Regions from separate parts of the Homo sapiens genome. Here regions 1, 3 and 4 are each reported to be linked to region 2. Evidence: microRNA targets listed by miRTarBase, many of them from high-throughput screens and not tested one by one. Region 2 holds a microRNA gene; each other region holds the end of a gene's coding sequence.

Evidence for each region. Region 2 holds the annotated microRNA hsa-miR-489-3p (GUGACAUCACAUAUACGGCAGC, at 995-1,016, shown strand). A microRNA usually pairs through its seed, bases 2 to 8, with sites in the 3' UTR of a target mRNA and lowers its output. Matches are read on the target gene's strand: a 7mer-m8 pairs with bases 2 to 8, a 7mer-A1 pairs with bases 2 to 7 and ends in A, and an 8mer does both.
Region 1: miRTarBase lists NDFIP2 as a target of hsa-miR-489-3p. Seed matches in the 3' UTR shown: 7mer-A1 at 2,181-2,187.
Region 3: the mRNA of ONECUT1 is a reported target of hsa-miR-489-3p. The part of its 3' UTR that is shown has no 7-base or 8-base seed match.
Region 4: miRTarBase lists STC1 as a target of hsa-miR-489-3p. Seed matches in the 3' UTR shown: 7mer-A1 at 1,103-1,109.

The regions. Positions count from the first base shown.
Region 1 is chr13:79,550,740-79,553,990 of GRCh38, forward strand. NDFIP2 (Nedd4 family interacting protein 2) reads left to right here. Exons shown (of 8, transcript NM_019080.3): 7 at 278-383; 8 at 1,777-3,251. The coding sequence ends at 381. Among named protein-coding and RNA genes, the nearest start is that of LINC01068, 14 kb to the right of the region's middle.
Region 2 is chr7:93,481,712-93,484,962 of GRCh38, reverse strand. It overlaps MIR489 (microRNA 489), which reads left to right and starts at 944; the gene lies at 944-1,027. The region is part of intron 3 of CALCR (calcitonin receptor); the gene reads left to right. MIR653 (microRNA 653) reads left to right here and starts at 2,108; the gene lies at 2,108-2,203.
Region 3 is chr15:52,754,911-52,758,161 of GRCh38, reverse strand. It overlaps ONECUT1 (one cut homeobox 1), which reads left to right. Exons shown (of 2, transcript NM_004498.4): 2 at 315-3,109. The coding sequence ends at 607. Among named protein-coding and RNA genes, the nearest start is that of ONECUT1, 34 kb to the left of the region's middle.
Region 4 is chr8:23,842,021-23,845,020 of GRCh38, forward strand. It overlaps STC1 (stanniocalcin 1), which reads right to left. Exons shown (of 4, transcript NM_003155.3): 4 at 1-3,000. The coding sequence ends at 2,750. Among named protein-coding and RNA genes, the nearest start is that of STC1, 11 kb to the right of the region's middle.

The sequences.
Region 1 (3,251 bases), not on the chromosome of region 2:
AGAAAATCACTTAAATGTATATTTTTATGTAATTCTGGATTTTTATAGCTAGATTTGCTTTAATTTTGGTACATCTAGGCTTAACAAATTGAAAAATTGTATTTCCTTGTGACAGAGTTTATCCTTATAGTGTAAAATATATTACAGAAATGAATGGAAGTCTGCAAGTAAAATTCCTTAAGCCAAGAGGATCTTGTTTATAATTGTCTACTTTAAATTTATCTTGCCCTTTTCTGTATAAAAACATAGTATATCCATATTATTTCAACCTTCTCAGGCCTGCTCCTTTTCTTCAGAGGATTTGTTAATTATCTAAAAGTCAGAAACATGTCTGAAAGTATGGCAGCTGCTCATAGAACAAGGTATTTCTTCTTATTGTAGAGGTAAGAAATATTAATCTGTGAACTCTGCCTATTCCCTTTATGTATTCAAATTTGCCAGATACATATTAAATGCCTAATGTGTATTCATGATTTTTACTGTTAGCATATTTAATATTTTTTAATACTGCTAACAGTCAGCTTATTGAAATTTGATAAGTCATAGACCTTTTTAGATAACTTTTAGATTTTTAAAATTGAATTTCATAAATTTTAATTTTTAAAATACATAGCGAGTGAACTGAAATTTTGAATCAGACTTTTAAAACTTCTCTTTAAAGATTAACCATAGAATGTATATGAAGTAACCACCAGCACAAAATTTGAAGGCTTGAAAAAACAAAATATGACATAGTACTTAGACCGAAGGAATGAGCATTTTTGTCTAAAACAATATGAAATTCACATAGACATCTGGTGGAGAAAAAAATCTGATTGAAAAACAATTTGTCTTGCAGTCCTTTTAACAGTCTGGATTAAGGAATAAAAGTCATGTGAAGAAAATAGTTCTGTTATTGTTTTCTTAATGTGTGCTGATTTTTTATCAACTATGAAGGCTACAACTTGAATAAGTAGGAATATGAAGAAATGAGTAGAAGTTGTCTTACTGGTTATCCAGTGAATTTCTGGAGGTCGTGGGTATAGTAATAGTATTTATTTATTGTTCAGCGGGAGTATCTTCACATAAAGTAACCTCATACTCCCTATTCTACTTTTTAAAGCAAGTACCATGTACTTTATACCTATAAATAAGGTAAACTTATAAAGCATTTGAACTCTATTACCAAAATGTCTACTAGTACTTAACTTCTGAATGCAGGACTATAAGGAACAAAGTGTTTCAAGTTTATTAAGTATTCTTTTTTCAAATAAATAAACTGCATGCTTTGTGATTTGGTTGCTTACATTTTATCATTTATATAAGTTATACATAAGCTTATATAATTTACTTATTTCTGCTAGAGTACTATGAATACATTTGTATTTCTAGATCATGTTAAAGTATCATTTTAAGTGTTCTACTAAAGTCTCCCCCAACCACTCCCAAAGAAGTCGCTTTTTTATTTTAACAAGCAAAATATCTTTGCAGACACTGGCATTAAGAATTTGTCAGTATTAATAATAAGATTAAAAGGCAAAGTAATTTTGCTGTTTTACTAATTTGTGTGATTGTCTTCTATGCATTTTGAAGAGTCTAAAATACAATGCAAATATTTTCTAGATGAAAATCTGCTATAGAAGCCTTACACTTTAGAATGTATTCTGATATGTAGACTTTAATGAAGAGAATATTATATACTTAATATAATTCTTCTATAAAATGTGTTGTATTATACTATGATTTAGATAAAGACAACTTAATACATTTTAAGACTAATTCCTTCTTTGTCTCCAGACTGCATCAACCCGACATTCCTTTCTTATACCAATGTGAAATTTCCAGATCATCTGTAAACCTACAACTTTAATAGAAGACTACTAATAACAGAAGACAAATTAGTGAAGAAAAGACGGAGTTTCGAAATTGAATGGCAGGGTGGTTTTTGCTTACAAGCCATTTCTGTTCATTCTTTAAGTATCTATATTTCATTTGTTTTGCACATATGCATATGTGCCCATTTAAGATATTTGCATATACTTGATAGAAACCATAAAGTTGTAGCAGTTAAGTCCAGTCACATTTGGTTAATCAGTGTTTGATATAATTGAAAGAGTTGAGTGGATAAACAGTCTTCCAGCTTGTAAATGCCATTGACTTCTGACCTGACATTTAGTATAATAAAAATGAAATTCTTAACCATGTCAAATGATTTAGTTTCTGGCTCTTAGACTCATCTGGCAGTTCTACACATGAAACATCTTTTGTTATATAAGGTGTATTGAAACCTGCAGTGCTGATTATTAGAAAGGATTTGTCAGATTTTTGAACATGATATTTACATTATTATTTAGGAAAACTCTTCCTGTAAATAACCATGCATAACTTACTTTCTGCAATGTTTTCTTAGAAATTGTGTCCAGATAGCTTTCACTAATTTTAAATTAAGTGAACTAAATATATATGTGTATATGTATACACATATATATACACACACACATATATATATTTAGAAACGTGAGTGTTAAAGATAGAATTTGTTTTAGGACAAATTTTAAGAAAATGTGGGAATACCAAATGTCCTTTATAAGAAAAATAAATTTTATTTTAAGGGACATACTAGTTTTAGGGATTTTCAGATGGGAAGCTGCATTTTTAGGATTGCCCATCTTAAGAGATCTTGCAGGAAGAGATTGTATTAGATATTATATTTATTTCATTTAAGATAATTTTCAAAGTTAATTTTCTAAATAAGATAATTCTCATTTGTGTTTGTCTTTTAAAAGGCCAATAAAATATCTTTCAGTATCATTGTAATAATTTTTTAGAGTTTAATTTGTAAAGCTTAGCAAATAAAATCTTGTACTATGAATAGCTTCTTGCTTTATGACTTTAGGATTAACTTGTAAAAAACATATCCTGAACTGAGATATGCAAAATACTCATTTTCAAGTTATGGAAATGTGTTTGTGGCATATAGGACTGTGGGGTCTGTGTGTGTAGTGAGAGTGTGTAGCCACTATTATAACTGGAATTTAATTTACATTCATAAACTACTATATTTCCCATCTTGCAAATCATTTTATGTCTCATCTGTTTTTCCTTTCGGTTATATCTTTGGTTTTGAATACCAACATTTAAAATGATGGTATTTTATCTTTTAAACTTAAAAATTATTTAATACAGCTATATGGACCTTATAAAATTGATTTCTTATTTATTATTAGACATTACTACTAAAAGGTACATCTAACTATTCAGGGACATTTTTC
Region 2 (3,251 bases):
TAAAGTCTCAGTTTGGGTCACCACCTTCAATTAGCCTCTTTCCATTAACCATAACCACCCACTCAATTCCTCTCCCTCCTGCGAGGTATACAGTAAGCTTAGAGCAGCAGTTGGTATACAGTGAGCTCTCAGAAAAAGATGCCAGTGACGATGCTGATGACAACAAAGCCAATGGTAATAACAAAGACATAAAAATTAGGTTCTTCAGAGCAGGTGTTATTGTTACTTGTTTACTTATCTATGTTCACCTATTTGCTTTGAATTTATGATATATGCAGTTTCGTTGTTTATATAATGTAAGTAGAATTACACAGTACACCAGCCAGGCATCTGATCTTACCTGGGAAAACCAGGGCTAACACTTTTTACAACAGTGTGCTTTGTCCTTTCTTATTTTGAAATGTGTAAGTAACTGAAAAGCAAAAATAATTATATACATTATCAACATTAAGGATGGTGACATGAAAATCTCATTGGTTGCATCAGTTTGTGGATTCTAGGTTTACATACTTTTTAGAGTAGTTTTGCATGTGGCAATCAATAGGAAGCTCTCCCTTCAGCACAGCAGCTTGGGTCCATACACTCAGTGGGCTTGAACTATTGCAGAGATGGACCATTTCTCAAAGTTCCATGAAGAACAGCTCTGTAACTGTCTCTGTACTTCTAGAAACTGCCTGTAACCCAAAAGCAAACTGACTGTCCTACATCACAGTAGGAATTGCATAAGCATATGACCATTTCAAATCAGATTCCTTTCCTGTGGATTCCATGATTAGTGTGGATAAAATCAAGAATGTAAGCTCTATGAGAGCAGGTGGCTTGCCAGTTTGGTTCACTGCTGAATTTCCAGAACCTAGAAGAGTGCCTGACATGTGAGAGGCACTCAAAGTATTTGTCGACTGAAAAAAACTGATGATGTTTGGGCTGCTGACTACTGCTGTTGGTGGCAGCTTGGTGGTCGTATGTGTGACGCCATTTACTTGAACCTTTAGGAGTGACATCACATATACGGCAGCTAAACTGCTACATGGGACAACAATTAAGAGTTTTGTTTGTTTGTATGTTGAAAAATCATGTAAGATGGTTTATATGCAAAGCTTTGAAAACTGATGTTTATTCAGAAAAACAATATGCCCTTAATATCTCATTTCTATCTGAATGTGAACATATAATCATATTTTTATTTAACCCCCTGAAATAAGTAGTATAGACATAACACTTATAATAAGTAGGATATTTGAAGTCTCTTACATTGTTTGGTAGTTTCATCCAATCACTACTGGTTTTATTTTGTCTCTGTATTGCTGAAAATGATACCACCTTCCCAGCAATTCTTATTTGTATAAAATTATCAGCAAAAGTTTAACATTTAATAAACTTTATGAAATTTGTATATGTGTTATTTTTAAGCAGTAGTAATTCCATGATTGTAATTATATATATATAATATACATAAAATCATACATATACATATATTTATATGTTTATATCTATCTATCTGTCTGTCTATCTATCTATCTATCTATCTATCTATCTATCTATCTATCTATCTATACAGTCAGCCCTCTGTATCCATGGGTTGTACATCCATAGATTGAACCAATCTTGGATAGAAAATATTCAGGAAAAAATTGTATTGTAAACATACAGACTATTTTTCTTTTTATTATTTCCTAAATAATACAGTATAACAACTATTTACATCATATTTACATTGTACTAGGTATAAATAATCTGGGGATGATTTAAATAATACAGGAGGATGTACATAGGTTATATGCAAATACTACACCATTTTATATGAAGGACCTAAGCATCCTCAGATTTTGGTATCCACATATGCAAATACTACACCATTTTATATGAAGTACCTAAGCATCCTCAGATTTTGGTATCCACAGGAGGTCCTGCAACCAATCCCCTGAGTATACCAAGGGATGACTGTATGTATAAACGTAATGCCCCAATGGGTATGTTATTTTAGGAAGAAGGCCACTGAGACATTCATCTACTGTTGGGAAAATTCCATCTTCAGTGCTCAAATATGAACCAGACCAGGAACTGATGCAGATTATTACTGCTCATCTGACAACAGAGGTTCTAATTTTTCATTCCTTCAGTGTTGAAACAATCTCTACTGAACCAGCTTCAAACAAGTTCACTGGAGTTTGTTTCAATATTGCAAGAATGATAAGATGGAAGCTACTTTCATCAGCATGAATTATAACTACTCGTATACAGATTGTCGTATTTCCACTGTTACTGATGTTAAAACTGCATTAAAGCAAATAAAAATATAATTGAAAATACAAGCATAGGGTTTTCTACTTGTTATCCTCGGACATACTATTTGCCTATGGTTTCCATGAATTTCCAACTAGAGCAAGAAAATCTCTTGGTTGGTTGTCAGCCATATAAAAAGAGAATTCAGAATGTTACTTTTGGGAAGAAAGCCAGATTTAAACAAAATACTTCCCAGTGTTTAGCATATCTAATACAAGTGACAGATAAGATTTATATATGACATCATGTTCCATCTTCTAATTCGATTTGAAGATGGTGAGAAAATGGTCCAGAAATTAATAATACATCAAATGATCATTCTCATATTAACTGAAGATTTTAGAGCCACAAAAGAAGAATCTAAAATAAATGTATAAGTTGAACCAATAATTAATATCTCTATTGTGAAGGCATCATGATCCATTCTTGTTTTGATGGTTGCCTAATATGTAATTGAATTTTTAAAACACACATATTCATACAAAAGTTGAGTAATAAACTAAAAAAAGAAACCTCAACATGGAATCCCTTCAAATTACTCTTTTTTAAAAATTTTGCAAATCGTGTTCCAATTCCATTAGGAATATCTAAGAATTTTATGACTGATGATTCTTTATTGTTCATAATTTCAAGTATCAGAAATATATTTTATAGTGTTGGTCCATCTTGCCAGACTGTAAGCTCTATGAGAGCACAGTCTACACTTATTTTATTCAGCACTGTATCCTCAGCATCTGGCACAATGTTGGGCTCATCAAGTTTGATCAATATTTGCTGACTGATCTGAAGACCAGTGGGGAAAGTGTCATATATCAAAAGAATTGTGTTCAGCTACACTGGTAAAGGATTTGCACAGTTATAATCATTTTTATGGGTTCATTACTTTCTCTTCTGACATAAATTCAAGAGACATTAAAATTAGAAATCAACAAAATGTTTAAAGAGTAGTGTCAACCTTATTCACAATT
Region 3 (3,251 bases), not on the chromosome of region 2:
CATTTAGCCAGAAACTTACATTCTACAGGTGAGGAATCTGAAGCCCAGATGGAGTTAACTGACTTACCCAGGACAAAGAGCAAATACTCATCAAAGCCACAACCCATGCCCAGGCCTCACAGAACTTCACCTGTATCCCAATTCTCCATTCTGCTATTACACTTTCCTCCCAGCCTCCAATGGTGCTTAAAGCAGAGGTCAGCAAACAGAAAGCAGGCCATGAGGAATGGCTAACAAATTTTATGAGCTCTGTCTTTCTACTCATGATTCTCCCCTAGACCATTTGTTCTAACATCTTCTGTGTTTCTTCACAGCATGCAAAAGGAAAGAACAAGAACATGGGAAGGATAGAGGCAACACACCCAAAAAGCCCAGGTTGGTCTTCACAGATGTCCAGCGTCGAACTCTACATGCAATATTCAAGGAAAATAAGCGTCCATCCAAAGAATTGCAAATCACCATTTCCCAGCAGCTGGGGTTGGAGCTGAGCACTGTCAGCAACTTCTTCATGAACGCAAGAAGGAGGAGTCTGGACAAGTGGCAGGACGAGGGCAGCTCCAATTCAGGCAACTCATCTTCTTCATCAAGCACTTGTACCAAAGCATGAAGGAAGAACCACAAACTAAAACCTCGGTGGAAAAGCTTTAAATTAAAAAAAATTTTTAAAAGACCAGGACCTCAAGATAGCAGGTTTATACTTAGAAATATTTGAAGAAAAAAAAGCGTTATTTATAGTCCAAAGAAACCAAAGACTTAGCTCACCTGCATTCTGACTTTGTTTGGAGACACACACTTCAGCAGGGCGGCGACTTGGCAAGACAAATGATGAGCAGGAAAACACCACTGGATCTCACACCTTCAATCCATGACCATCCTCGCTGTGCTTGGCTGTTTAGTGGTTTGGAGCATAGTGATTTTGAGCCATTGAGCGGACATCTTTTAAGATCGAACTTTCTCATCTGTTCTACCATGCCACGAAGGTGTATGGTGTCTCAGTACTACCACCACCAGTGGTTACAGACTTAGGCAGAGCTGGTCTTCAGAAATGGTTGTTCTATAGGAGTGCAACCAACATGGTATGGGGTTGTCTGAGTTCATTGGATTAGGAGTGTGATTTTGCTCGTCTAGCCTAACGTTTGAACCTGCCAGGCCCGCAACCTAAATGCAGATTCAAACCCAGCAAAGAAAATTTGAATGACACCTAAACCAGTGCATTCTCTTTGTTTGTTAAGGAATGTTCAGATATTTTTTAAGAAATGAAACATGAGTCCATCCATTAAAAAAATCACCTAGGTACCAAAGAACACACTTAATATTATAGTGCAGGTATTTTATTGCAATGATTTTAATAACCAAAGCTATTTTTACACAAGATACTATGAAAAGTTATACGTATGAACTGATCTAGCTGTAATACACATGCCACATAGAATCATGACTATTATTTATGACTCTTGAAGCATTTGAAATATGAGTTTTCAGAACTGGCAAGAAAGAATGTAGCTTCAGGGAAGCAATTAATATCATGGCAGAGAGGTCGATGCAGTACACGTGTACATCCAGATGGCACACTCCTTTTCAGGATCCATAAATGTCACTTAAGTAGAGAGATAGACATGGTTCCATAATCTGTTCCTAGCTGAGAAAACCTGAGGATCTTTCCAAAGTAGTACCCCATTTTTACACTAGAAAACTAAATTTAACAGGGAGGGTAACTAAATTAGAAAATTTGTTCAAAGTAATGCTTTTTAGTAAAAGGTCACTAAATAAAGAACTATCCTTAGATTAATTGACTTATATTTGCTTTATGCATCTGGCACCAAAAACCTCTTTTAAATACTTTACAAATACAAATAAAGTTTAAAAAAACAACATTATTATTCAAATGAGCTATTCAGTACTTATAACTATCCTAAAAAGTTATCAAATTAACTTATTGCCAATCCCAGAAATTTTATGACTTGGACGTCAACAAAACAGCAGGTGCAACTGAGAAATGGTGGAATTGGTGGAACTGTATAGAAAAAAGCCAGTGTTCTGGTGGACGACAAGACTTTTGATCTATTGGTATTAATCAATTTATGGAACTAAGAATAGCCTCCAAAGCATTCTGCCTTCTTTCTTGCTACTGCATTTAGCTGGAAATTTTATAATATAGATTTTGCTCTCTAACAGGGACAGATTAAAAACTAGACCTGAGCTTACAAATACAAAATTTTAAATTTCTATTTGTCCAAATCACTTAACCAGAGCTGTAGAAGTCAAAGTCAAAAAAAAAATGAAGTCGTATTAGTGGTACCCCAGTGAATCACTTGATTCCCAGAAAAATTCTCTCTGAATTCAGTTGGACTGTAACTTATCTAAGTGGATGCCCCTTATGCCATTAGGTAAAGAATTGGATACTGTAAGTTAATTACCACCCCTACTTAGAACTATGAAATTAAATGTTATCCTAATGATAAGTTGTTTTATTGAGATTCATTAAAAATGCCAAAGAACAAAACTGAACCATCTTGACACAAAACATAACTCCTTAGCATCAAATCTCAGCACCTTGTCTAGGTCTGTAACAGGCAGGCAACTAGAGAGGTAAAGCAAAACCAACAAGCCATCTATCTGTGTCTCCTTCATGTCTGCTGTCGAATGAGAAGAGGAAACCAACATATACTTCTCTTTTGATGAAATACTTCATTTGCCTTGACATGTTTTGTTTTTTGTTTTTAATTTCACCCACAACTCCAGCTTAAAAATTTCCCTTCTAAATATGGCACAATTATAGTTCAGCTATTGAAAGAGACCATTTAAATGGCCACCCTTCAAGATTTACTAAAAAATAGAATCTTGTCAATGACATAAACAAAAAGGAAAAAACTGATTAACATTTTCTCTCTCTCCAGGGATGGAGGGAGCCGGGGATACAGCTACATAATGTATTTATAATTTAGGAGGGAGGAAAGCCTTATTTATTTAAAACGTGATAATTCTAAATGCAGGGAAATTCAAGCTGTGTCTACACACAATCTTACCAAATTCAATACCCCAAGAAAAGAATAGCAGAATTCAGACAACCATGTTTTTTATTTGTTGCTAGTATATATTACCCCCAAAATCAATCCAACTACATGTTACCCTTTTTTTTTTTTTTTTTTTTTTTTTGAGAGAGTCTCACTCTGTCACCCAGGCTGGAGTGCAGTGGTGCAATCTCAGCTCACTGCAACCTGCACTTCCTGGGTTCAAGTGATTCTCCTGCC
Region 4 (3,000 bases), not on the chromosome of region 2:
CAAATAAAATAACTTGCATCTGTCATTACCATGATATGTTTCATAACCTTTATATGCACATGGAGCTTAAAAATGTAATTTAACAATAAATAATGACATATACCAGATATGCTCACTGTTTATTCCAGTACTCAGCCAAAAACCTAAATATCATTTAAATTATAAATACATAATGCAAATATAATGGCACAAAAATGTCTAAAGTGCAACCAAATCACAAGAGAAGAATCATGCAAACTGGTCTAGGTCAGCCCCCGAATCACTCTGCAGCAAACACAAGACGAAGCTTTGGAAGTTTAAGGGGGAATTGGAGGGAGTAGGGTGGGGGAAAGAGAAGCAAAAAACTAGCAACATTGTGAGAACTGCTTCTTTCTGTATGTGTAGATATATGTATTGTAGATACATATATAGATATCATCGTGGGGAGAAAAGGGGGGGTACCACGGTTTGAAGAGGTCACAGCCAAAAAAAAAAAAAAAAAAAAAGAAAAGAAAAAAGGAAATCTACTGAACTGAAGAAAGAGAGAAATTTGCTAGGAATACTCATGAACTACTTGTCGCATTGGGGTCCTGGCTTAGTTGGGTTTGCAAAATGGACACAACACACAAACTTTAATAGCTTTTCTGATTCAGAGAAGTCAGCCTTGCCTGGGGGTGGGAAGTGTGGGAGGGAGGGGAAGAGTCTAACTTAGAATATGGTCTACCTGATTTCCAAGAGGCTAAGGCAGTGTCCATAAGTTTGGGGACCTGGGGATGGGACAGTTCTGAGTATAAAAATGCCCTTAACAATCTGATGTCAGCACGCTTAGAGGCTGTGTGGGGACAAAGGCAGCAATGTTTGTGCTGCTGCTGCTGCTGCTGGGTCTGCTGCAATTGCTCTTGGTCCTTGAGCAGCACGTTACTGGTTTTAAAGGCTTTATGGTAAAGTTGTATTGCTTTTCATTTTTCTGGAGATGTGCCCTCTCTCCTCCCACCAGGATCCCTATCACTCGATTTGGTCAAATCTTGAGTTTAGCCTAGTGAGAGTCAAGCACCAATAGTTTCTACCTAAGCGAGTTTGGAGTGGCCCCTGCAGTCCTACCCCTCCTCCCTCTCTTCCTCTCTTGACATTGACCTTTGGTGGGCAGTGACGCTCATAAGGGACTGTTGGGTTCAAGGACAGTGACCCTGAGAAACTACTGTTGTTCATAGATAGGTTAGTCGTTTGACTTTGGTGGTCGCCATCTTGTAAACATCATGGCAGAAATGATCAAACCACCAGCTCTTTTTCCCTCTTTCTTTCTTTTTTTTTTCTTTTTTTCTATTTTTTTACGATCCTACAGAGATGGTCCAGCTGCCAGGACTACTTTGGCAGGCAGCGTGCTACAGGACGAAAATGTAAGAGAAGTCTATTAAGGCTGGACAGCCCAGGGTTATTTATACTCTCTCAGCCCCAAGTCCCCCGGACTAAAGACCTAAAGGCTGATTGACTCATTCCTGATTGATTTAATGGAAAGTCTCCCACCCCATCATCATTTGCCAGAGTACCAGGCACCGATGAAAGGGGACGAGTAAAGAACTGCCACTTCCTAATGTATAGTAGGCCTTATCACACTGTAAGTGGTCCAAGCCCATAGGGATGCTCTTTTTGGTTCCTGGAATTTCCAGTTGGATGTGACAGAGATCTTTCAGTATAGGTCTAAGTCAAGAGTAGCCTCTGGGTTGAGGTGGGCTGGGAGATTAACATCTTACCTGGGGTCCTTCAGATAAACCTGTTGGTTTTTCCTGTCTCATACAGGCCCATCTTAAGTTTTGATGTTGAATTAAAACTACTTCTACCCCCTTAGTTATAAAAAAGGCCACAAGGAGCATTTATGTGGATATCTGGAAGTGAGATAGTTATTCCATTCCCAGGAAAAGAAAAATAAAGCTAAGTTACAAAACTAAATCTATATGCAATAAAGTTATTATATACTGCTTTGTTTAAGCAGAGTCCTCTGGAATTTATGTACAGTACATTAGTTTTCAGCTATTTATATTCCACAGTTAGACCTTAAGATTCTCTGGTTTTAAGACAATTGTTAAAGATACTTTTAAAGCTCTGAGCAGTTACAGTACGTAAAGATGTTAGCTTTTTGTTTTTCATTAGATGCAAGAAGATGCAGGCTCAAAGTCTGGTTGGACAGCCAGGCTCAAGCAATTTGGTAAATGTGTCGGAAAGAAAATTAGACATTGGAGGATCAAGACCATAAGACACTAGCTCATTAGAGATCAAGAATTCAAATGTGACATTCATATTCGTCCATGGCCAGCACAGATTCATAACACGAATTCCATTTAACATCTTTATGAGCATTTAAGACATGCATTTAAATAAAGTTTCCTTATCAGCTAACTCTACTGGGGCAACCGTTCTAAAGGGATCCACATCTTCAAATTACAATGGCTGGAGAGTTACATGAATGTTTTGTGTTTGGGGGTGGTCTCAGGGGAGCAGGGGAAAAACATGGCAGAGGAAGTTGGTAAAAGAGGGTACTTTCTCCTGAGGAGAGGCAGAATGGTCACATGGATTTTGTTGGTGGGAATGCTGCCATTGCAGAATGTTGGGATATTGATTACAGAAGCCTAGTTTCATGCAATTTTCTTTAAGGGGGATAGAAAATAGGAACTACTTTAAAAAAATCAAACCAGGCACAGTACACTCAAAACTGGTGTGTCAACACCCCTAAAATGATACTAGTTTGGTGAGGTTGTGAATAACCTCTCCCTGGTTATGCACTCTCATGGGATGTGCGTTTGATGTGGGAGGGAGAGTCCTCCTCACCTCGGAGGTTCCTGAGGAGGACTTTCAGCTTCTGCGGCTCATTGGTGCGTCTCCTGTTGAAGTCAGCTCGTGGGTGTGTTTGGGCACAGTGGTCTGTCTGCAGGATGTGGAAGAGGCTGGCCATGTTAGGCCCAATTTTCTCCATCAGGCTGTCTCTGATTGTGCTGACTGTGTCTTCATCACATTCCAGCAGGCTTC